Homo sapiens: one gene and its partners. The protein of the gene in region 1 purifies or fractionates together with the protein of each later gene. This does not show direct contact. Each region holds a gene or a part of one and is shown in the gene's direction. Other genes may lie near its edges.

Region 1 (3,500 bases):
ACAGTGGAACCCACGGGTTCTCAAAGAGGTTAGGTACTTGGTGCTTCTTGCCTGTCCTGTCTTGAAGCCTGGAATAGCAAGTTCAAGAACCTGAAGGGTATGGGGACCTGGCCCCATGACCTTGGCCTCTGTGCAAATTTGCTGAAAGAACTTTCCAAAGGCTTTGCAAGGCAAGCACAGTCTGTTTCATGGATGTTTTAAAACCAGCTGAGATGGTTTTGCAGCTGAGAAACGTGCTAAAAAGGCATTGCATCCGTTTTGTTAACATTTCCATCCATTGAGATTCGCTTTTATTCCCTTTAGTGAGCAGAAAATGTTACCTTTTCCAGCCCCACAGTGGGAGCTTCTCACTGGGTATGTGGGGAAGGCAAGGGAAGTGTGGGGCAGGGGCTTTTATAAGTGGAAGGGGTTGGTGGTGGGAGGAGAGGAGCAGGAAGGGGCTAGAGCATATCATGGTGGTCTTGGGGACTCTGGAGAGGCATTTGGGATGGAGGAGGAGAAGGGAGAGAGGAAGATGGGCCCAGTGAGATGCCCAGGGGGATTTGAGGAAGTGGAGCTTCCTGACGACTCAGGCTGTTGACGGGGTGGTGACGGAGCACAGGGAACCACTGAGGCTGCATTGAGGACTGCAGGGACGAGGGGAGGGCGCAGGACTAGGAGTTGGGAGGCCCTTGTGGTCCTGGGCAGGTTGCTGGGCTCTGAGCCTCAGTTTCTCAGGGTTTGACTCAGGAAGTGCAGAGTTCCAGCTTTAATGTTCTTGGTGCAGGGGAGAGTCCAGGCTTGGCGTGGTTGTTCCTGATTTCTCTTCCTGGGACTCATAGAACTTTGCACACCCCATGCTTAACCACACGTCTTACCTCATTGATCTTCACAGCTGCTCTGTGAAGCAGGAAAGTGATTTTTATCCTCTCCGCTGGAGGGTCGAAAGGTGGTGTGACCCCTTAAGGGCAAAGAGTCAGGAGTACCTCTTTCTCACTTGTATATGTTAACTGCTTTCAGGTGTGGCCACTGTGGGACCACTGCCCCCCTCCCACCCAACCCCCCCCCCCACCACCACAGCTCTCTGCCTTTCCGTTCTGTGTGGGGTGGCTCTTAAGAAGTGGAAAGTGATCATCTTGTTCCCTTAGTTTAGGATGGAGGGAGGTGGGGCGGGGATTGTGATGGGACTAGGTTAGGGGAAGAGGAGGATAGTGTCATCATTGTGTCTTTAAAACACCCAGGCTTTTGTGGTTGTGTTACCGTAATCTGGCCAGTGTTGACTTTAACCCGAGTTCAGGGGTTAGCCGTGATGCCATACAGGTGAGCCTCATTGTATGCAACAGAAAGCGTGGCTCCTAACAGAAAGCACGGCTCCTCAAAAAGCCGAACGAAAACAGTTGCTTTAGAGAGGAGTTCGAGGGGCTTGTTTGAATTTTATGCTTTCGGGCAGCCTTTTCTAAAATGTGTCCTAAAGAATACCAGTCTGTGAATATGTTTGGAAAATGCTGGGTACTCTGTGGCCGTACAGAAGACTTAGTCTGTATATTAGCATATATTAGTACCTTAAAGACAAGTAATGCAGTATTTTCCAAGCTAATTTGGCTAATGTCCAAGAACCTAGTGTTCTGAGCAGGGAAATTCTGATGTAGGGAAATTCTACACTATGGGCACTTTCTCTTTTTTTTTTTGAAACGGAGTCTTGGTCTATCGCCCAGGCTCCCAGCCTGAAGTGCAGTGGTGCGATCTTGGCTCACTGCAACCTCTGCCTTCTGGGTTCAAGCGATTCTCCTGCCTCAGCCTCCTGAGTAGCTGGGAATACAGGCGCACATCACCACGCCCGGCTAATTTTTGTATTTTTAGCAGAGATGGGGTTTCACCATGTTGGCCAGGCTGGTCTTGAACTCCAGACAGACCTCAGGTGATCCACCCACCTCGGCCTCCCAAAGTGCTGGGATTACAGGCATGAGCCACCATGCCTGGCCCACTATGGGCACTTTCTCTTTAAAGAAAATTTTGGAGGTTCCCTTTGTAACGAGAAGTCCTTGAGAATAGCTCAGAGGGGTCTGGCTCTGGGTCCATCTGCCAGGCTTGCGTTCTGATTCTGTCACCACCTCTGTGACCTTGGGCAAGTTTGTTCTCTTCTGCGGGCCTCCGATTCCTCGTCTGTAAGTTGGGAGTAACTTACTCCCAGTACTCATGGGGTTTTGTTAATTGTTCCTCACAAAAACTAGGGAAACTGAGACCCAGAGAGGCAGTGTGACTTGCACCGGTTCCCACGGCTGGTGGCTGTGGGTTCTTCTTGTCTCCCTGGGCCCAAGCCGTGCAGTCTTCTCTGGGCACCCTCCCTGTCTCTCTGGGGTCAAGGTCAGCTGCTATTTCTCTAGACACATCTTTCCAGCTTCACCCCTCCCTCATTTCAGGTCTCAGAACACTGGGATATTCACGTTTTGTAGTTCCAGCGCCATGTTTGCCTCTGGAGCAGTGGTGGAGGGTGGGGTGGGATACCGTCTTGGTCCTCAGGGTACTCTAAAGTTTAGACCAGGTGAAGGGTGTAGATGCGACAAGATGAGGCACATCCTCTCTGGCCAGGGACCCGTGTTGAGGATGATAATGACTATCCTAATAATTTGTTGTATTTGTCAAGTGCTAACTATGTGTTAGGCACATATTTCTGCCAACAAACTAGAACAGTTTATGTACTTTTATTATCCCCATTTTACAGATAAACTGAGGTTCAGAGTGGGACAAATAACTTGTGGTCAAAGCCACAGGCATAGGAGGAGACAGAGCCTAGCTGTGTCCTGGAGTGGCAGGACTCAGTCCCTGTGTTCCTAACTACCCCTCTTTCCTGCTCCCATGCCGGGAGGGGCTCAGCTTATACATGATCTGGGTGCTTAGGGGTAGGAAAGCTGCTTCTAAGATGGGGTGAAGGGCGAGTGGGGTTTAGTCCGGCGGGGTGGACGTAGCTGCACTTTCTTGGGTTTTCCCCACTCGCCACTCTCTGCTCCTCAAGGCCACCTCCAGAGCTCACTGACCTCTGCCTGAGTGGCTTGGGCCACCTCTCGCTTTAGGAGTGGATTTTTTTTTTTTTTTTTTTTTTTGAGACGGAGTTTTGCTCTTGTTGCCTGGGCTGGAGTGCAGTGGCGCGGTCTTGGCTCACTGCAACCTCCACCACCCGGGTTCAAGCGATTCTCCTGCCTCAGTCTCCCCCAAGAAGCTGGGATTACAGGTGCCTGCCACCATGCCTGGCTAATTTTTGTATTTTTAGTAGAAACAGAGTTTCACCATGTTGTCCAGGCTGGTCTGGAACTCCTGACCTCAGGTGATCCGCCTGTTTTGGCCTCCCAAAGTGCTGGGATTACAGGCGTGAGCCAGGGCATTTCACATCTCTTTAGCTCATGGGGCCTGCCCTTAGCCTTCTTTTGCCCCACCCCAGGGAGAGGCTTTGGGCCTGGCCTCTGTAGTCTGGGTGGGGTGCTGTTGCCACCCCCTCCCTCCAAATTCTCCCTGATTTTAAGCTG
Region 2 (3,500 bases), on another chromosome or scaffold:
ACCCAGCCTGGGAGTCAGGGAGGGCTTCCTGCAGGAGAGGGGATTGGAGCTGAGACCTGGAGGATGACAGGGAATGAGCCGAGGGGAGAAAACCTTGGCTGTATCCCCAGTGTCTAGAACCCCATTCCCTGGCATCTCCCGTTAAATTCACAAGCAGTCCCTGAAGATACAAGATTGATTAAAATGGCTCTGCCCTCACGGGCTCCTGGTCTGTCAAATAATCAACAGATCACACAGATGGTAACAGGGAGTGCCAGCCACTGTTTGAAGCACCTTATATACACTAAATAATTTAGTTCAACAACAACCCTATAAGGTAGGAGCTCTTATTATCCCGCTTTACTGATGGGGGAAGGCCCAGAGAGGGCAAGTACTTTGCCCAAGGACACACCAAGGAGAAAGGCAGCTGGAATCTGAACCCAGAAGTACCCAGCCTGCAGCATGTGCCATGCTTAAGGTGTGAGGCCGCATTTGGGTTAGTTCTGGGAGGAAACAGGAGGTGGTCAGGGAAGGTCAGCTGGGTAAGGGGAAGGAAGACGAATGTTTCTGTCTTTCATGGTGGGATCCTAGACAAGCCTCAGTTTCATCCTCTGTATAATGGGGATGGTTATAATACCCACCAGAGAGCAGAATTTAGGGTGAGTCATTCATTGGGTTAATAAGTGTGCATGGTCCTTATCTAAGGCAAAAGTTTGCCTTTGAGAGACAGTGGGAGAGGGAGTTGATGCCCCAGGGGGAACTGGGGTGCCGCAGTGTGCACCGTAGAGATTTCATTGCTTGGTTCCCCAGAGGGCTTCTCTGTCTCTACAGTCTATGGGGACAATGTGGAAGGCTTTGGTCTGTATTCTGGGGCAGTGAAGGGGGGGTTCTATCCAGCCTCAATTCACCCACGTGGTGGGGAGGTGAGGTCAGAATGGGGTCGGGAAGGGGGTCATCCAGGCCAGGCCACGCGTGTGAATGTGGGGCGGAGGGCTGCTGCAGGAGAGAGCCCATCTAGGGTATGGCTGGGCTGGAATATGTGTTGGCGGTGGTGGGGAGCTGCAGAGTGTGGGGAAACAGCCATCAGGTGTGGGCTGCCAAGGGCAGTGATTTGCCCGTGTCTGGTATGGGAGGTAGTGATGTAGATTTGTCTTTGGTGAGCCCAGCGTGGAGAGTTTTCAGCTCCGGCCCCGGGGTAAGAGCTGTGAAATCTGTGAGCTATCTGGGGAGAGCCATTTGGAAGGTGGAGCCAGGGGTGGTGATGTAACGCTGGAAAGGAAAGGGGTCATCCTAGTGAATGATGAGAGGGAGAGAGCTGGGGGCTGAAACACTGGGTGTAAGTGTGCCAGCGCCATGATGTCATGAGGCCCGAGAAGTGGGTCAGGTGTGTGGGCCAGGATGGGGCCTGGAGGGCAGCCGCACAGTGCTCGCAGGGATGGGGTGGTGACGTCATGGGTTGGTGAGGGCGGGGCCTCGAAGGCACCGCTGGGATGCGTGAGGTCAGGAAGGAGGCAGAGGCTGAGAAGAGGAACTGGGAGAGGCTCAGGACTGGAATGAAATCAGCCACCAGGATGAGCCACTGGTCATTCCGAAGCAAGGATGGAGGATGCAGGTAGAGGGACAGGGTCAGCGGCGGGAGGGGAGAGGGGGCTCAGGGTCCGGGGAATCCTAGAAGTGGCGGTGGTGGTGGGGTCAGTGGAGAGGAGGGGTTGTTCAGAGAGGGCTCTCTAAAGGGAAGAGAGGTGGAAAATATGTGTGCGGGTGGAGTGGGGGTTGGGGGTGGGGTTACAAGCAATTTGGGAGGGAACAGAATCCAGGTGAAATATGGGAGTGATGGAATACAGGCTGAAAGTGGGATGTGTGGAGCAGAACCTTGAGCAAATATGCGGGAAGAATGCAGTTGGAATAACGGGGTGCATTGAAGTTGAATATGCGGGAGCCCTAGGAGACCGTGGGTGGCTGGTGTAGGGAGGAGAGTGCGGCTGCCTCCCTGCCCCCAAATCTGGGAGAGCAGGATGGAATGAAGGGGCTTTGGACGGGAGAGAGGGGGCTGGTTTCCGGGGAATGTAGCATGAGGGTTGGGCTGGAATATGTGGAGTGGGAGGTTCTGCAGAGAGGAGGGGAAGGGGAGTCCAGAATTCCGTGGCCATCTGGGGGACAAGTGACGGGCAGCTGGGGTCAGGGAGGCCGTGTGGAGCTGGCACGGGTGTGGGATTTATTCCATCAGCAGTTACTGAGCACTTAGGACATGCCTAGAGGAGGGGAAGGGGCCGGGCAGCGGGTGAAGTTTGTGGAGGTGAGAGAGGTGTAAGTGTGCAAGGGGAATTGAGTTTAGGCAGAGTATTCGGTGGCTCAGTGTCTGGGATCAGGGCGGGGTGGGGGCTAAGGACAAGGCAATGGGATGCCGAAAGGGGCTGCTCTTCGCGGGGTGGGTATGGGGGGTTTCTGCCGAGCAGTGGGGAAAGGGGAGTTGGCGGCGGGGATGCGGTGTGGCGGGCCCCCTTCCTCTGTGCGGTCTCCTCCCGGGAGTTGGGGACCACGAGTGGGGGCGGTGATGCTGTGCGGCTCCTCAGGTGTTCAGTTCCGTGGGTGCCTCCTACGCCTTGGTAACCCGGACGGTGTCGCCGCTGATAGGTTCTGGGAGCCGGAGGGGGTGGGGTTGATGGGCGGGGTTTAGAACACCCAGTGGGGCGGGGCCAGTGCTGCCACGCACTGCATTGGGGTCAGGGGATGTGGGATATGCGGCAATTTGTTTGCAGCAAGATCGAGATTATTATTTTTTATTTATTTGTTTTTTCTGAGACAGAATCTTGCTCTGTTACCCAGGCTGGAGTGCAATGGCATGATCTTGGCTCACAGCAACCTCTGCCTCCCGGGTTCAAGCGATTCTCCTGTCTCAGCCTCCCGAGTAGCTGGGATTACAGGCACCTGCCACCACGCCCAGCTAATTTTTGTATTTTTAGTAGAGACGAGGTTTCACCATGTTGGCGAGGCCGGTCTCGAGCTGACCTCAAATGATCCACCCTCCTCGGCCTCCCAAAGTGCTGGGATTACAGGCGTGAGCCAACGCACACGGACGAGATCGAGATTATTAACCTGGACTTATGAACCATCAGAGAATGAAAGCACAATTGCCAGAATGTGAATTTTCCAGGGGAAGGGGGTCCCCGAATTCATCAGCCCTTCCAAAGCACTCTTCTCCCAAATGAAGTTAAGAGCTGTGATCTAGAGAGAGGTGTCTGTCAGGAGGTCTAGGGCCTACGCCATTGCCCTTGGGCCTCTGAGAAAAGAGATCTGTGGATGGGCCTGGGGGGTGGTAATTTGGGAGCCACTGAAATGAACTTGCAAAAGGTTTTGGGACTATTCATTTATCTGCAGAAGGCTCAGAAATTTCATTAGATTCTCAAAGGCTCAAGGACTCTAAAAAGGTTAAAAATCCCTTACCTGGAGTTTCAAGGATCATCTTTTTTGCCTCACAATATTGTATTTTCTGATATTAGATTTTATTTTATTTTTTGAGA
Region 3 (3,602 bases), on another chromosome or scaffold:
GGCGGCAGACCCCAGGATTTAGACCCAGATGATTCTGCTTGTAAAGCCCTTACTGTTTTCTCTCCACTCTGCCTCCTCTCTTTTTTATTGCTGGTGACTGGAGGGAGCTGGGAAGAAAACAGGCCCTAGCCGGCTGGGCAGTGCTCTCCCCAGGGGCCTGGCAGGTTTACTGGCTGCAGCAGCAGCTTTCCTTGTGGGAGGGTCTTGGGCCACGTGCCCTGCGGCTGGCCTGTAGGCTGTCACAGGTTTATTCTTGGTCCTGCAGACAATCATGACATCATCTCCATGAAGCTGTTCCAGCTGATGGTGGAGCACACGCCCGACGAGGAGAGCATCGACTGGACCAAGATCGAGCCCAGCGTCAACTTCCTCAAGTCGCCCAAAGGTGCGTGTGCACAGCCCCGCCCTGCCTGGGCCTGGGCGGCCTGACCCAGAATGGGGTGAAGCCAGCCTGGCGGGTCTTGTGGTCCAGTCGTGGTTGTGGTGGTTGTGGTCTGGGCTCTTGGATCAGCCCGGTCCTGGCAAGCGGCACTGGCTGGCCCTGTCCGAGCTCCTAGAGTATTGGGCTTGGATCGTGTCAGCTCTGGCAAGTTTTTGAGTAAATGAATGAGGCGGAAGAGAAGTCTGCAGAGAGTCAGTCCCTGAGGACATCCTAGTCACGTGAGTGCTGTGGCAGCAAGCAGTGGCTGATCAACAAACGTGTGAGTGGTGGGCCAGCATCCTCCCTCACTAGGTGCTGGGGCAGTGGCCAGCAGAGCCAGGGGGCTGGGTATGTTGGCCCACCTGTCCCTTCTGTGAGCCACCTGGAAGAAGTCGTGCTGCTGGTCAAGGGGGTGGATTCCTTAGCTAGAAGGAGAGAGAGAGCAAGATTGGAAATTGGGTTTCTACAAAACCCGAAGCCTGGGTTCTTCCCATGGCACTAATTAGCTACCCCTTTCCTCACAGAGTGAACGTTGTGGTTGGAGGAATGAGGCATCTGTGTGTGGAGAAGTCCACCCTAAGAGCCACAGATGTGTGCCTGGGGGTCCAGCCAGTGACAGAAGTGCACGGCGCGGGCTCTGTCGTAGCCCAGCCCTGGGTCCCCATGCCGTGTGGGCCAGTTTGGCCGCGTGTTTCTGCTTTTCAGGAGAAGCCAAGATCCAGTGTTTTATGTGACAGTTCACTTTTTAAAGATTCAGATTATTTTGAAATGTTTTGGGGACCACACAAACCTTGCTGCAACCTTTGGTCAGAAGGCTGCCAGCTGCTGGGTGTTTGCAGAGGTGGCACCTGCCTTGCCCACCCAGCATCCCGTGCAGCTGGCAAGGCAGGATGAACTCGTTTTTAGATTCAATCCATTTGTTCCTTCAGATGTGACCAAAGCTGCCCTCTGTGCCTAGCCATGGGCTGGGTGCTGGAGACACGAGATCAGGCAGGCCCTGCCCCTGGGGCTCATTCTAGGGTCTGCGGCAGACAGGGAGACAGAGGGAGCTGTGAGAGCCCTGAGGCTGAGTGGCTTTCTGGGGAAGCACCATCCCTAGGGACCTCCGCGTTCGGTCAGTGGCCGCTGCTGTCGGTGTGCAGAGCAGAGGCTGGGGCGAGAGTGGTCAGCAGGCCTGCTGGTGGCAGCTTGTGCAGGAAGGGAGGATGGAGGTTGGCTTGTGGCTGGCAAGAGGGTGGCATGCACGTCGCTGAAAGGCAGGGCCTGGGCCCGAGGCCTGGGTGTGGGGACGCCTGAGGAGACTGTACAGTGTGGAGTCGGGGGGGCCGCAGTCAGGGAGGGAGGCAGAGTGGCAGAAACAGGGCCCAGCCAGACCCCAGCTCCTCCACCCACAGCCTGGAGAGCTTGGGAAAGTCAGTGTCTTCTCTCCGCCTGTACAAGGGAGCGTACCAGTGGGCCCCATCCCAGGATGGGCAGGACCTGTGGGAACCTTGTGTGGAGGAGAGAGGCTGTGGGCTGGGGTGGAGTGTGGGACTCAGGTCCTGGGAGACCCTCCTGGGGGGCTGCCGAGAGCATCCAGCTGTGGGCTGGGAGAGCCTGTGACCAGGGCCGCGCTGCTCCAGAAAGGGCCCTCAGACCACAGCGTGGGGGTGGGGCTTGGATATGTAGACTCCTGGGCCTCCCCTTATCCAGAGTTGGACTCAGAGGAGCCCAGGAGTCTGGTTTTAACTGGCTTCCTGCAGCAGAAGGCAGCCCAGGCTTGTCGCTGGGGTCCCGGGTCCCTGTGGGCTTGGTCCTCTCTCTGCCCCACCCTGCCCTGGGGACTGCAGAGCTGGCTGGGATGGGCTTCACCTGACCTCTGCCCCTCCCCGGTGAGGGGGGTGAGTACGACCGGCCTGCCCACCGTGGCCGGCTGTCCTGTTCCATCCCCACTGCCCTCCTGCAGCCCCCTGATCCCCGGCCCGTGCTGCCGTTTCAGCTCCCCCGTTTCTTCTCCCCCAGACAACGTGGACGACCCCACGGGGAACTTCCGCAGCGGGCCCCTGACGGGGTGGCGGGTGTTCCTGCTGCTGCTGTGCGCTCTCCTGGGCATCGTTGTCTGCGCCGTGGTGGGGGCCGTGGTGTTCCAGAAGCGGCAGGAGCGGAACAAGCGCTTCTACTGAGTGGCGCCTCCGGCGGGGCCTGTCCCTGGGCCCAGGAGCCAATGTGAACTTTTTTTTTTACCGGGATTATAAAAGAACAACAAGATGACCTTATTTCTTAACTGTTTCAAATAAATGATTAAAGTATTTTCATACATTTTGCTTCTTGCCCAGCAGGGACAGGTGGCAGAGCCGAGGCTTAGGGTCTGGCACCCCCCACAGCTGGAGACGGAGGCTCTCCTGGGGCTGGTGTCTCAGGAGCAGGGGTCTGTGTCTACAGATGGGCTGTGGCCCCTGCAGGCAGCTGTTGAACACTGGAGGGTCCCCCGGACCACACTGGGGTGGGCTCCTGAGGACGTGGGGAAGTGATTTTGTTTTGTGGTGTGTGGCACGTGTGGCGACGGATAAGGCCTGAACTGGGAAACCCAGGCCTTCCTGTTCACCCTGAGCTGCTTCCTGAGACAGATGCTCAAGTGAGGCTGCAGGCGCGGTGTGGTGGGGCCGAGTGTGACCGTTTGCTAAATAAAGTGAAATACCCAACCTCAGCCGTGTGACTGTCCTGAGGGGCTTGCTTTGCTTTCTCTTCTAATGACTTCCAGCCCGCCAGTGCTTTAGAGCTTTCAGCTCGTCTGCTCTGACCTGCAGAGTCCCGGAGGATGGGATGGGTTGCCCTGTTTCCCAGCTGGGGACACACGGCTCTCAGAGGTCAAGTACAGCTTGCCCAGTGTCACCTGGCAAGTGATGTTTTGGGGATGGGGCCCTGTGCTGTCTCCCACATGCTCTGGGCCTCTGGGTAAAAGGATGGGTGGTAAGGGGCACCACGTGGAGGCTTGGCTGGGCAGGCGGGTACACTGACGGGGAACTCCGGGGGGCTCTGGGATGATGTGCAAGGGGCTGGAGGATGGTGGGGGTGGTTGTGGCAGTCCCTTTGGGGCACCTCAGGGGACAAAGATGATAACGGGGAGTGGAGGAAAGGCAGCAGCTGAAGGCATGGCACCACCCCCGGCAGCTTCCATAATCGTCGCCCCCAGCTGTGGCTG
Region 4 (3,500 bases), on another chromosome or scaffold:
ATAATTTTCTTAGTTAATGGGTATTATCACCGTTTAACAGTTAAATAAATGTTCATCTCATTCAATTCTGCATTTTACACGAAAGAAATATTCTCATACTTTGTTGTTTAACATCGTGATTTGTGACAGTTATCTGAGTTGTTCAAGGCACTTTATAGGTAATAAAAATAACTGTTTATATTATATCACCGTAGAGGGCTTTAAGGGCAAATGAATTTACCTCAGATTTACTTGAAAACAGTTCCATTGATGTTGAAAAGCAAGTCAGTGGCAAAATGTTTGAGTGGCTCCCATGGCTGGCTTTGCGGTGTGGCCAAGTCCCAGGCCCAGCAGTTCTGCTTAGAGCCAGTCACTGCAAAAGATAGTCTGTGCTGAGCGCTGAGGCTGCTTCTCTGCCCTCAGATGCTGGAGAATCAGATGGAAGTGCGGAAGAAGGAGATCGAAGAGCTCCAAAGCCAAGCCCAGGCCCTGAGTCAGGAAGGGAAGAGCACCGACGAGGTAGACAGCAAGCGCCTCACCGTGCAGACCAAGTTCATGGAGTTGCTGGAGCCCTTGAACGAGAGGAAGCATAACCTGCTGGCCTCCAAAGAGATCCATCAGTTCAACAGGGATGTGGAGGACGAGATCGTGAGTCGACCCCTACTGCACACATGGCTTTTCCACGAGCCCCCTTGCCTGTGCTAAAGCCCACATTCTCACTTCTCAGTCATCCTCACCTTGGGCCACGTTGGCAAGCTGAGCTGCCAAAGTCCACGCTCTGGATGGTCTAAAGTTTCTTTCCCTTTTCACCCTAAATGTAACTCCATTGGTCCTCTCACGTTATCTAGGGATACTGTAGGATTTTAATGGCCCTAAAACAGACTTTTTAAAAGTAATGAGGACTCACAGTGAGTTTGACCTTGAGGATGAGGTAGAGTTGGAAAGACTCTCCCTAGCCCTGTCTCGGAGAACAAGGGCGTGCTTCCCCAGACAGCCCTCCCGAGGGGGCTGAGCACTCTCTGAAGCTCACCCTTGCTGTCCCTCACTGCCCCTCACTGCTCGTTTGTGTCGTATATTTGTTCCTCTGAGTGGATCTGACCACTTATTTAAAATTCTTCCCAGTTGTGGGTTGGAGAGAGGATGCCTTTGGCAACTTCCACGGATCATGGCCACAACCTCCAGACTGTGCAGCTGTTAATAAAGAAAAATCAGGTAAGCCTTTCTGCTCGAGCTAGTTCTGTCTGATAAATAATTGCTCTAAATTATGAGACTGGGAATGGCAGAGAGCTTTGAAGCCTTGCTATTTCTTTCTGGCCCTAACAGCTTGACATAAGCAGCAGACGGCTGCCATTTAGCAAGCCTTTGTGTGTATTTTCCGCTCCCTCCAGACCCTCCAGAAAGAAATCCAGGGGCACCAGCCTCGCATTGACGACATCTTTGAGAGGAGCCAAAACATCGTCACTGACAGCAGCAGCCTCAGCGCTGAGGCCATCAGACAGAGGCTTGCCGACCTGAAGCAGCTGTGGGGTCTCCTCATTGAGGAGACAGAGAAACGCCACAGGCGGCTGGAGGAGGCGCACAGGGCCCAGCAGTACTACTTTGACGCTGCTGAGGCCGAAGCCTGGATGAGCGAGCAGGAGCTGTACATGATGTCAGAGGAGAAGGCCAAGGTGAGAGGAGGCGGGAAGCATCCCTGTCCCAGGAGAGCCTCAGATTCAAACCCTGGGCACACTTTCTGCTGGCGGCTCTGTCTGTATAAAAACTTCCCTTGTAGCCTTTGAGTGTTAAGGGGACACCATGTGCATGAAGGTGTCTGAAATCCAGCTGCTGGTTTCCCTTTGGTGCAGCATTTTCTTATCTGAATCCTAGTGTGCCATTAAGAACAGGTTCATCCTTTCATCTTTGAAATATGCCAGAGTCCTTCCTGCTGTCTATTTATAGGTTCCCTAAACTTTACAAAATACAGGATGGCTTGGAGACAATTTGAAAGTATTGCAAGGTTCCAGGAATGCTGCCATTTACATACTTGAGGGACCTTGAGGAATTCCAGCGAACCAGGCACACTTGGTCTGCCCAAGCTTTTCTCTGAGAGGGGCCCTGCTCATTCTGCGTTCTCCTTGTGTTTATCTTCTGCACAGGCTTCTGTGGTCCAGTCCATATGGAAGCTCTTGGAACACTTCTGTGTTCCACTGTCCGTACTGCACCTCTGGAGTTTTTCTTTCTACTGATCCTTCCTCCTACCCTGCTGAGCAGCTGGTCTGTCACTCCTTAAGGGGTAGGGCCAGAGGGGACCGCTATGGTTGTGATGTTCTCCTGTCTTTGCAGGATGAGCAGAGTGCTGTCTCCATGTTGAAGAAGCACCAGATCTTAGAACAAGCTGTGGAGGACTATGCAGAGACCGTGCATCAGCTCTCCAAGACCAGCCGGGCCCTGGTGGCCGACAGCCATCCTGAAAGGTGAGCGCTGCTTCATGAGTGTGAGACCCGGCTCTCGATTCCTCTCAGTTAGGGTCTCTTGCTAACCCCCACCAAAAGAAAATGTCAGCATTCATCATGACTTGCTGGTAAGGCAAATCTTTGAGAAGCATTTTTAAAACAGACCCATCATTTAAAACATCCTATCATGATTAGGATGGGTGAACTGTTATATTAGGAAATTGCTCTTGTGGGTTAAATATCTCCCGTTGGCCAAGGCTCTCCTGAAAGAATATTGGTGTCGTGAGTCAAAAGTACAGGTTGACTAGGCTGGGCAGTCAACGTAAAGTGGCTTACACTTGTAATCCCAGCACTTTACCAAGCCAAGGTGGGAGGATTGCTTGAGCCCAGGGGGCCAAAGACCAATCTCGGCAATGTGGCGAAACCTCATCTCTACAAAAAATACAAAAAATCAGCTGGGTGTGGTGGCACACGTCTGTACTACTCAGCTATTCAAGAGGCTGAGGTTGGGAGGATGGTTTGAGTCCAGGAGTTTGAGTCTACAGTGAACCATGTTCACACTGCTGCACTCCAGCCTGGGTGACAGAGTGAGACCTTGTCTCAAAAAAATAAAAATGATCAGAAGTACAGGTTGACTTGCATGGTGGATACAGATAGTCATAGCACTTACACTTGGGTTGAAAAAGTCATCCAGTTTAGTAAAGTAATTACTAGTTTTAAGAGGAGCATTAGACAAGAATGCATAGACCTGTAAAATGAAGGGGCTCCCAGGAAGAACAAAGTGATAACACCTCCTAACTCTTCGATATCAAGTGATTAGAACACCTTCGAGGAAAAAGAAGAGGTGAGTGTGTGGTACTCATCAGGCCCCTGTATTAACTTCCAAAGCAGTCATTTTAGGATTTTTGTGTAAATGCCTTTTATGACTTGGAAAGGAATTGGCCTTGTGCATTTAACCAGGGCAGGTTAGGGGAGATGAGGTCAGTGGCTCTGTTGGTGTAGGAGGTTCTTAAGATGTTCATGATCAGGATTCCCAGGAAAGTGGCCTTCCTAGTCTCCAGGGATAGGCACCAACATGTCCTTTGT
Region 5 (2,371 bases), on another chromosome or scaffold:
TCAAAGATATTTTCTCAATAACTCTAAAAGGGAGGTGCTTGGGATTAAGGTGACAGTCCACTTGATCCTTTTCTTTGTTTTAGTGTGAATTTCAGCAGCTCCATCTGTCTTCATGATTGTACTTGAGCAGTATTAGCTGTATGAGTTAATTTTATTCAGATTGAAGATGGAGGGCTGGGTTCTGCTCACTCAGTCTTTTTTTTTTTTTTTTTTTTTTTTTTTTGACCATTCTCTTTTAGTCTATGGGAATTACAGGGTTGCCGCTAAAATATTCACTTGTTCATATCGTGTCAGAGATTTCCTCTTCTCTGGAGCTTAGGTGGCTCTTCACAATCCATAGGCTTGAATCTGCAACCTAGTGTAAACTGCCTTGCTTTCCCCGGTTCTTTCCCCTGCTAGCACCTGCTTTCTCATCCCTATCTCCAGTCAAAGATGGGATTGCTTAATCCAACTCTGGAGAGGGACCAAGTCTTTTCTGCCCACATCTCACACAATTGAGGTGTCTGAACAAGCTTGGGGAGGGTCTATAAGGGGTAGGCTCAAAAAAAAAAAAACCCATTTGCAGAGGCAGTTTTGCCAACACAAGGGCTCTTTCAAGCCGACTTTCACAAAGAGAGCCGGACTTGTTAGTTGGCTTCTGTCTCTTTAGAGCCAAGAAAATAGTAATTAAGTGGCCTAGATATAGGAAGGGCAGAATAAGCACTTACTCCCCCTGCCTTCCAAGATGAAGAGGAGAAGCAGGCCAACCCTCAATAATTGCAAGCCTGAAGAGAAGTGATCTTAGAGAAAGCAGAGAACAGAATGGACTGGATAGACATCTTGACTCTATTCAGCCCGTAGTCTGTGATCTGGAGAGTCCAGTTAAGGTAACCCAGATTTTTGACAACCGCCTTCCTGCTGAGCCAAAGTTTTCTCATTACCCCTCCACTGGGGAAGCAGCTGAGGCCCAGGGCCTTGCTCCCTGGGAAATTCTCTTCTCTCCATCTTTCGGTGCATTGGCCATGTTACTGTGCCAAAGTGTCTTAATTCTTGTCCCATCTATTCTCAGCTGGCCTTGGAACCCACATAGGAGTTGGTGGGGGAGGGATGGAATGGGTATTATTCATTGTAGTTGATCCTGGTGTGTGTATTATATAAAGAGACCCCTCCCCTTATTTTGTGTTTTCCATCCCTCTCCCTTAACAGGATTGAAATAAAACATGCTTCTGTTTTTGTAAAAATAATTTTTCCTTTACACTGGAGATTTTATTCTATCAGTATATGGGTAACTAGGCACTTTGGTCAGGTGATCCTTGTCATGCCTGCTTCTCCCCTCTGTCTACCTACACAACACACACACACACACACACACAGCCCTGCTAAGATGGCAGTAGTGGTTCTTTTGTGAACATGTTTTTTGGGGAGACTCCATCTGAGGTACAAAAGCTGTTTGGGAGGCTGGGAGGGGGATGATGCCCCTTACCTGATAAAAGTATGTTTTACTGGGACAGAACTTCACTCCTGGCCATATTGGCCAGAACTTAGTGCCAGTGTAGGGAGAGACTTCCATAGTGACAAGGTAATGCTTGAAACATCTTACGAACTTTGATGTTCATTTCCTCAAGTTCAAGGCTTGGAGCACATCTCCAGGATTGTTTCCATGCCTGGCTGTCAGTGGGACACAGCTGCCCTATGCTTCCACGTTCTTTTTTCAAGAGCCTTAGAGGGCCTGTGGCCTGTTTCACTGGTGGAACAGGAGCAGCATTGGTAGCCTTCAGAGCATGCCTTGCTTACTAACTACATATTATTCCTCTGCTCATTGTTCCTGCTGCTTAAAGGCTAGGAAAAGGGGGATATACAAAGTTGTTGCTTTCAAAAACTCAGAGAAAAAATTTGGAATAGGAAACCTTAGAATGAAATTATATTTTTCTTTCCTGATACATTATGGAATTTAATTTTTGGAAAAATATTTTCATATGTTTATTTCAAAAGCAGATATAACAAATAGAAAATTTGTTGGTTTGTTTTGTTTTGTTTTTGGGAATTGGAGTTTCGGTCTTGTTTCCCAAGCTGGAGTGCAGTGGCATAATCTCAGCTCACTGCAACATCTGCCTCACAGGTTTAAGCAATTCTCCTGCCTCAGCCTCCTGGGTATCTGGGATTACAGCCGCCCGCTGCCACATCCTGCTAATTTTTGTATTTTTAGTAGAGACGGGGTTTCGCCGTGTTGGCCAGGCTGGTCTCGAACTCCTGGCCTAAGGTGATCCGCCAGCCTCAGCCTCCCAAAGTGCTGGGATTACAGGCATGAGCCACTGTGCCTGGCCAACAAGCAGAAAATTTGAATAACAATTAACATACCTGGCTTAAATGACATTCATAGAACACTGCACTC
Region 6 (3,500 bases), on another chromosome or scaffold:
GAAAAATTAATATGAAAGAAATCTGACTAAATGAAAAGTTAACTGCCTCAGAATTTTTATTGATGTGTTTCATAAAAGGCAGTAAGAATTGTCTTTTTTACAGTTACTCATATGTTTAATGATTCTTTGGAAGGTCTTAATTACAGAGCACGGTGACCTGGGTAATAGCAGATTTTTAGATCCAAGAAACAAAATTTCCTTTAAATTTGACCACTTACGGAAAGAAGCAAGTGACCCCCAGCCAGAAGAAGCAGATGGAGGTCTGAAGTCTTGGAGAGAATCCTGTGACAGTGCTTTAAGAGCCTATGTGAAAGACCATTATTCCAACGGCTTCTGTACTGTTAAGTATCTGACTGCTTCGTTATCAGAGAGTGTTTTCTTATATTTACCTTATCCTTTGGAGGCTTTGGCCTACCAAACATCCCTACTTTCTTCTTAGCCATGCTCTCTTCTCCTCTGCATTTTATTCCCTAAATCATTTTGGAAAGGGGTATAAATGAAATTTTTATATGGAAAATTTCTTTTTAAAATCCCAATGCACAAAAAATTTAGGTATCAGTGTATTCTGTTTTCACATTTGACTTATGAAAAATGCCTTACACCCATCAGAAAAAGGTCTTTGGTTTTTCTTTTTTTCTTTCTTTTTTTTAAATTAACCTTTTAAATTAATTTTTTTTTGTTTGTATTTTTACCCAGATCTAAAAGGTCTTTGGTTTGGACATGGAGAAAAAAATGGTATACTAAGATTGTTGAGAGAGCTTTTGCTCATATTTATGGCTTTTTGATATAGGCATTTTTACACAAACTACTTCTACATAGTTTAGATGTTTATATTCAGTAATCAAAACTATTAGAACTAAACAATTGGCTGGACATGGTGGCTCATGCCTGTAATCCCAGCACTTTGGGAGGCCAAGGTGGGCAGATCACTTGAGGCCAGGAGTTCGAGACCAGCCTGGCCAACATGGTGAAACCTTTACTTAAAAAATACAAAAAGTAGCTGGATGTGGTGGTGCACACCTGTAGTTTCAGCTACTCAGGAGGCTGAGGCACAAGAATCACTTGAACCAGGGAGGTGGAGGTTGCAGTGAGCTGAGACCACACCACTGCATTCCAGCCTGGGCAACAGAGTGAGACACTGTCTCAAAAAAACAAAAAACAAAAAAAACCAAACAATTTTTTTTTAATCAGGAGTGATTTTCTTTTTGTTGTTGTTTTTGCTGTTGTTGTTGTTGTTCTTTTGTTTTTTGAGACTAAGTCTTACTCTGTCACCCAGGCTAGAATGCAGGGGCACCGTGTCAGCTCAATGTCACCTCCATCTCCTGGGTTCAAGCAATTCTCCTGCCTCAGCTTCCTGAGTAGCTGGGATTACGGGTGCCCACCACCACACCTGGCTAATTTTTATATTTTTAGTAGAGACAGAGCTTCACCATGTTGGCCAGGCTGGTCTCGAACTCCTAACATCAGGTGATCCAGCTGCCTCGGACTCCCAAAGTGCTGGGATTACAGGCGTGAGCTGCTGCACCTGGCCTAATTTTCTTTTACTCCCTCTTGACTGTAAAAATAGATAAATTTGGCTTTATTATTTTTCCTTTATAAAATTATGGCATATTAAGAAAAATATTGATTAGAATATTTTTTATTTTTAAATTGACAAAAATATGATATGTACAACATGATATTTTGAAATATGTATACATTGTGGAATGGCTATATTGAGCTAATAACATGGATTTCTATACATATTTATCATTTTTTTGTTGTGGGAAAATCAGCAATTTTCACTAGAATATTTTAAATATACAATGATGATGAATTACATGGCAGTCTAGAATACAGTTAAGAGCACCTACTTTGAAGCCTTACTAACTGGTTTGATTCCTGGCCCTGCCAATTAATTAGTTGTGTGACCTTAGGTAAATTACTTAACATCTCTGTGCCTCAATTCTTTGACTGTAAAATGGAAATAATTGTTTTTATCTCATAGAGTTGTTGTGAAGATTTAATGAATTAGTAATATATGTAATATATGCCTGGAACAGTGCCTGGCACAAAGTAAGCTCTACATAAATGTTAGATGAATGTTAGGCTAGGTGTCATTATGTTTGATTTTTTTTTTTTTTTTTTTTTTTTTTAATGAGAATACCCATTATGGTGGACTGGACAAGTATAGAATTCCTGTTGGGAAGCCAGTATTGCAAAGGGGAGACATGATAGACTCCCATTTAGAAATTGACTGTTTAATCCTAAATATACTTTGAATTTATTGTTTGTTACCTGTTCAAAGTTTGTCACTACCCATTCTTAATTTGGAGAGCTCCAGCACCAAATAACCCTACTGTGTCCTTAGCTATCAAATGACCTACAGAAAGTCATGGAATTGTTGTGATGGTGTCTGCTGTATATAAGTATCCTATGTCTTATGTCTTCAGCTGACCTGCTTAGTAGTCCGTAATTTCATCTCCTTATTCCCTATCACATTTTCTACATAGTATGTTCCAAACATTTTTCATTGTCCTCTGACAGGCATCTAATCCCCCATGTTTTGTAAGGATTGAAACTGACAGAAATTTTTTTTTTTTTTTTTTGAGACAGAGTCTCACTCTGTCTTCCAAGCTGGAGTGCAATGGTGTGGTCTCGGCTCACTGCAACCTCCCCTTCCTGGGTTCAAGCGATTCTCCTGCCTCAGCCTCCTGAGTAGCTGGAATTACAGGCGCCTGCCACCACACCTGGCTAATTTTTGTATTTTTAGTAGAGACGGGGTTTCACTGTGTTGGCCAGGCTGGTCTTGAACTCCTGACCTTGTAATCCGTTCGCCTCAGCTTCCCAAGTAGCTAGGACCACAGGTGCACACCACCATACCTATCTAATTTTTCTCTGTGTGTGTTGTGTGTGTGTAGGGACTACAAGGCATGAGCCACCAGGCCCGGCCTATTTCTCCTTCTTTGTCTGCCCTTTCCACCTTGCCCTTTCTCCCTCTTCTCCACTTTTTCCCTTCTCTCATCTCTCTCTGCATCACCACCACGTCAGTACATATTCTTTGCCTGCTAATGCCATTTCCTCTATCTACTTCTGAACCCTTTAATTTTTTACTTTAGTCTCCATTCTACAGAAACTGCTCTGAGTTTACTAATGGTTCCTGAGTTACCTGGTCCAGTGTCCTTTTCCTTGTCCATGACTTCCGAATGGCATTTCACACTGAAGCCAATCAACCACTTCTAGAAATTATCTTTTACTTAGGCTGCTGTCAGCAACCCCTAATTCTTTTTTTTTTTTAGAGATGGAGTTTTGCTCTTTTTGCCCAGGCTGGCGTACAGTGGCATGATCTCAGCTCACTGCAACCTCCGCCTCTCAGGTTCAAGCGATTTTCCTGCCTCAGCCTCTCTAGTAGTTGGGATTACAGGTGCCCACCACCACACCTGGCTAATTTTTGTATTTTTAGTAGAGATGGGGTTTCACCATGTTGGCCGGGCTGGTCTTGAACTCCTGACCTCAGGTAA
Region 7 (3,500 bases), on another chromosome or scaffold:
ATTAGCCGGTTGTGGTGGCAGGCACCTGTAATCCTAGCTACTCAGGAGGCTGAGGCAGGAGAATTGCTTGAACCCTGGAGGTGGAGGTTGCAGTGAGTCAAGGTCACGACACTGCACTCCAGCCTGGGTGACACAGCGAGACTCTATCTCAAAAAAAAAAAAAAAAAAGAAAAAAAAAGTTTTTTTTTTGAGACAGGGTCTCGCTGTGTCACCCAGGCTAGAGTGCAGTGGTGCCATCATAGTTTACTGCAGCCTCAACCTCCTGGGCTCCAGTGATTCTTCCACCTTGGCCTCCCACAGAGCTGGGACTACAGGAATGCACCACCACACCTGGCTGATTTTGTTTTGTTTTGTTTTGTAGAGACAGAGTCTCACTATGTTGCCCAGGCTGGTATTTTAAATTTTTAAATAAGAGACAGGATTTTGCTATGTTACCCACGCTGGTCTTGAACCCTTGAGGTCAGGCTGTCCTTCTACCTTGACCTCCCAAAACACTGGGATTACAGACGTGAGCAACTGTGTCCAGCCCTGTGCACCATTTATTGATTGATTGAACACTTAGCTGTGGCAAAGACTAACCTTACAAGCATTCCATCTGTGTCTCAGAACGCTTTTGGGTGCAGTTAGTGGAATACCCTGTTAGAAGGGACAAACGATACTTTAACTCACAGATGGATCACCTGGGGACCTAGTTAATGTTCAGATTCTGACTCAGTAGGTCTGGGGTGGAGCCTAAGAGTCTGCATTTCTGGCAGACTCCCAAGAGGCTGATGCTAGGGGCCCACAGACCACACTTTCAGTAGCCAGGGCATCAATCATAGACATTTGTCTTTTGATTCTGCACAAGGCTGGAGGTGGGTGACTCCAGGATGAGACTAGCAGTGTAGAGACACCAGGGCTCTATTTTGGCTTCTCTCTGACTTCATTGCCTTCCCTCCTGCAGTTGCAAGTAGCTGCCGCAGGTCCAAGCATGCTCCCCTTACAGGACAACATCCAAAGAGGACAGAAGTGGGGCAGTGGGAAATTTTAAGAAGGGATTTTCCTCCTGTGGCTTTCTCTTCTTGTCCTTTGGAGAGAAAAACCTTTCCCGGAACCTTAAACCTTTCTTACTCCCCAGGCATGCTTTTCTTTGCATCCCAGTGACTAGGATGGGGTTACATTCCTGCCTGGACTGGTCACTGGCATGGAGCAATAGGATTGCAAGATTGGCTATACCAATCAGGATTCAACCCCTCGGACTAAGCATTTTGCTATTTTCTTGTTAGCAAGGAAGAAGCGTGGAATGGCTGGTAGATAGGCAGACATTAGTGTCTGCTACACCATGTTATCTCAGTTTTCCACACAACTGTACCATCATCCCTGTTATAGACTGAGGAAGCAGCTTGCAGCAGTAACTGACTTGCTTAAGGTCACACAGCTATGACAGAGGTAGGACTCCTGTCCATCAACCTTTCCATCAACAGTACTCATGCTGCTCTGCTCCCCATCAGGTATGACAATCGGTGCAGGAACATGAGCCAGGAGCAGGTGGCCCAGAAGCTGGCCAAGGACCCCAAGCCTGCGATCCGCTTCCGCCTGGAGCAGGTGGTGCCAGCCTTCCAGGACCTGGTCTATGGCTGGAATAGGCATGAAGTGGCCAGCGTGGAGGGAGACCCAGTCATCATGAAGAGCGACGGCTTCCCCACATACCACCTGGCCTGCGTGGTGGACGACCACCACATGGGCATCAGCCACGTGCTGCGAGGCTCTGAGTGGCTCGTCTCCACTGCCAAGCACCTGCTCCTCTACCAGGCCCTGGGCTGGCAGCCACCCCACTTCGCCCACCTGCCCCTGCTCCTCAACAGGGATGGCAGCAAGCTCTCCAAGAGGCAAGGGGACGTTTTCCTGGAGCACTTTGCTGCTGATGGCTTCCTGCCCGATTCCTTGTTGGACATCATCACCAACTGTGGCTCAGGTTTTGCAGGTACGTGCCCACCTGAATAGTCCTGGCAGCAGAGAGCATGGCCAGGAGGAGCAGGGCTTTGGCTCAGACAGTCCTGCTCTTTGGTCCCAGCTTTGCCACCTACCAGCCAGGTGACCTTGGACAAGTTTATTCTTTTATTCAATAAATGTTTATTTTGCCAGACACCACATTAAGTGCTGGGGCTACAGTAGTGGGTGAGATAGACATGATCCCTGCCCTCAAGGGACTTATAGTCTCTGAGCCTCAGTTGCATATCTGGAAAATGGGGATAAGTGTCTACCTCATTGGGTTAGGATTCACTGAGCTCAGGAGTGTAAGGTACCCAGCCCAGCACCTGTCACACTGTAAGCACAAAAAATGACAGACCCTATGATTGTGACAATTATTACAAGCATGTATGCTAACAGTATGACTAGAATTAATATGGATTTAGTTTCTTTTTTTCCTTCTTCATTTTACTGCCAGATGAATCTAGTTTATTTCAAGCTGAGCACTTACCCATGGTCCAAGACTTAGACCCAAACCTTGAAGAAGCAAGCATCAAATAGGATGACCTGAAGGATTTCTGAAAATGTGTCCAGAATAGCCTGCCTGCTGGTCTCATTTCATTTAACACAACATACTATTAAGGGGTAGATACATATCTCCACTGTTTGTAAGAGGATTGTGAAGCTCAGAGAAGCTGAGTAACTTGCCAAAGTCACACACCTAGTGAGGGATATAGCGCTTTAGGCCTATGCCTGATCACGATGCCTGCTGACCGTATGGGACTGAGCTGCTGCTCACAAGAAGCAGCTCCCAGCACTACGGTTCTTAACTTTTTTTTTTTTTTTTTGAGACAGAACTTCTTGTCCCCCATTCTGGAGTGCAATGGCGCGATCTCGGCTCACCGCAACCTCCGTCTCCTGGGTTCAAGCGATTGTCCTGCCTCAGCCTCCCGAGTACCTGGGATTACAGGCACCCGCCACCACGCTTGGCTAATTTTTGTATTTTTAGTAGAGATGGGGTTTCACCATGTTGTCCAGGCTGTTCTCGAACTCCTGACCTCAGGTGATCCACCCGCCTTGGCCTCCCAAAGTACTGGGATTACAGGCGTGAGCCACCGTGCCTGGCCTGGTTCTTAACTCTTGATCGTGCTTTGGAATCAGCTAGGAAGCTTCTAAAATATGCTCAGACCCCAACCAAACCCAGTTGACTCAGAGTCTCTGGTACAGCCAGGCAATGGGCGTACTGTTCTGCAGCTCGTGTCTTGAGAGTAATGGAGATGGGTTTAGCCTGATTGTTTTCAGACCTTTTTTTCTTTAATGATGGAACCCTTTCTGAAAATGAAAGCTCATTCAGGCTCTTGATATATAAATAGCTAGAAGTTAAATCCCTTTGGGCAAAGTGGAATGGGGGGCCCAGGGCTTGCTCACTCAGCCTCCCTTATGTTTGAAAGTAGAAGGAGGGCGGGCACAGTGGCTCATGTCTGTAATCCCAGCACTTTGGGAGGCCAGTGCAGGAGGATCATTTAAGCCTGGGAGTTTGAGACCAACCT

Evidence for each region.
Region 2: the proteins of TNKS1BP1 (region 1) and CCDC61 purify together in Homo sapiens (tandem affinity purification; one study listed by IntAct). This does not show direct contact.
Region 3: the proteins of TNKS1BP1 (region 1) and LMAN2 purify together in Homo sapiens (affinity purification with mass spectrometry, with the first as the bait; one large-scale study listed by BioGRID). This does not show direct contact.
Region 4: the proteins of TNKS1BP1 (region 1) and SPTBN1 purify together in Homo sapiens (affinity purification with mass spectrometry; 2 studies listed by BioGRID, with this or other methods). This does not show direct contact.
Region 5: the proteins of TNKS1BP1 (region 1) and CNOT9 purify together in Homo sapiens (affinity purification with mass spectrometry; 2 studies listed by BioGRID and IntAct, with this or other methods). This does not show direct contact.
Region 6: the proteins of TNKS1BP1 (region 1) and CAPZA1 purify together in Homo sapiens (affinity purification with mass spectrometry; 3 studies listed by BioGRID and IntAct, with this or other methods). This does not show direct contact.
Region 7: the proteins of TNKS1BP1 (region 1) and EARS2 purify together in Homo sapiens (affinity purification with mass spectrometry, with the first as the bait; one large-scale study listed by BioGRID). This does not show direct contact.

The regions. Positions count from the first base shown.
Region 1 is NC_000011.10:57,304,453-57,307,952, reverse strand, and holds part of TNKS1BP1 (182 kDa tankyrase-1-binding protein), read left to right. Parts: intron 1-3,500.
Region 2 is NC_000019.10:45,998,467-46,001,966, forward strand, and holds part of CCDC61 (centrosomal protein CCDC61), read left to right. Parts: intron 1-3,500. UniProt on the Homo sapiens protein: Microtubule-binding centrosomal protein required for centriole cohesion, independently of the centrosome-associated protein/CEP250 and rootletin/CROCC linker.
Region 3 is NC_000005.10:177,331,067-177,334,668, reverse strand, and holds the end of LMAN2 (vesicular integral-membrane protein VIP36 precursor), read left to right. Parts: intron 1-265; coding exon 266-385; intron 386-2,422; coding exon 2,423-2,583; 3' UTR 2,584-3,102; downstream 3,103-3,602. UniProt on the Homo sapiens protein: Plays a role as an intracellular lectin in the early secretory pathway. Interacts with N-acetyl-D-galactosamine and high-mannose type glycans and may also bind to O-linked glycans.
Region 4 is NC_000002.12:54,644,827-54,648,326, forward strand, and holds part of SPTBN1 (spectrin beta chain, non-erythrocytic 1), read left to right. Parts: intron 1-402; coding exon 403-627; intron 628-1,101; coding exon 1,102-1,191; intron 1,192-1,367; coding exon 1,368-1,649; intron 1,650-2,304; coding exon 2,305-2,435; intron 2,436-3,500. UniProt on the Homo sapiens protein: Fodrin, which seems to be involved in secretion, interacts with calmodulin in a calcium-dependent manner and is thus candidate for the calcium-dependent movement of the cytoskeleton at the membrane.
Region 5 is NC_000002.12:218,595,210-218,597,580, forward strand, and holds the end of CNOT9 (CCR4-NOT transcription complex subunit 9), read left to right. Parts: 3' UTR 1-1,871; downstream 1,872-2,371. UniProt on the Homo sapiens protein: Component of the CCR4-NOT complex which is one of the major cellular mRNA deadenylases and is linked to various cellular processes including bulk mRNA degradation, miRNA-mediated repression, translational repression during translational initiation and general transcription regulation.
Region 6 is NC_000001.11:112,654,332-112,657,831, forward strand, and holds part of CAPZA1 (F-actin-capping protein subunit alpha-1), read left to right. Parts: intron 1-133; coding exon 134-340; intron 341-3,500. UniProt on the Homo sapiens protein: F-actin-capping proteins bind in a Ca(2+)-independent manner to the fast growing ends of actin filaments (barbed end) thereby blocking the exchange of subunits at these ends.
Region 7 is NC_000016.10:23,533,351-23,536,850, reverse strand, and holds part of EARS2 (nondiscriminating glutamyl-tRNA synthetase EARS2, mitochondrial), read left to right. Parts: intron 1-1,490; coding exon 1,491-1,963; intron 1,964-3,500. UniProt on the Homo sapiens protein: Non-discriminating glutamyl-tRNA synthetase that catalyzes aminoacylation of both mitochondrial tRNA(Glu) and tRNA(Gln) and participates in RNA aminoacylation for mitochondrial protein translation.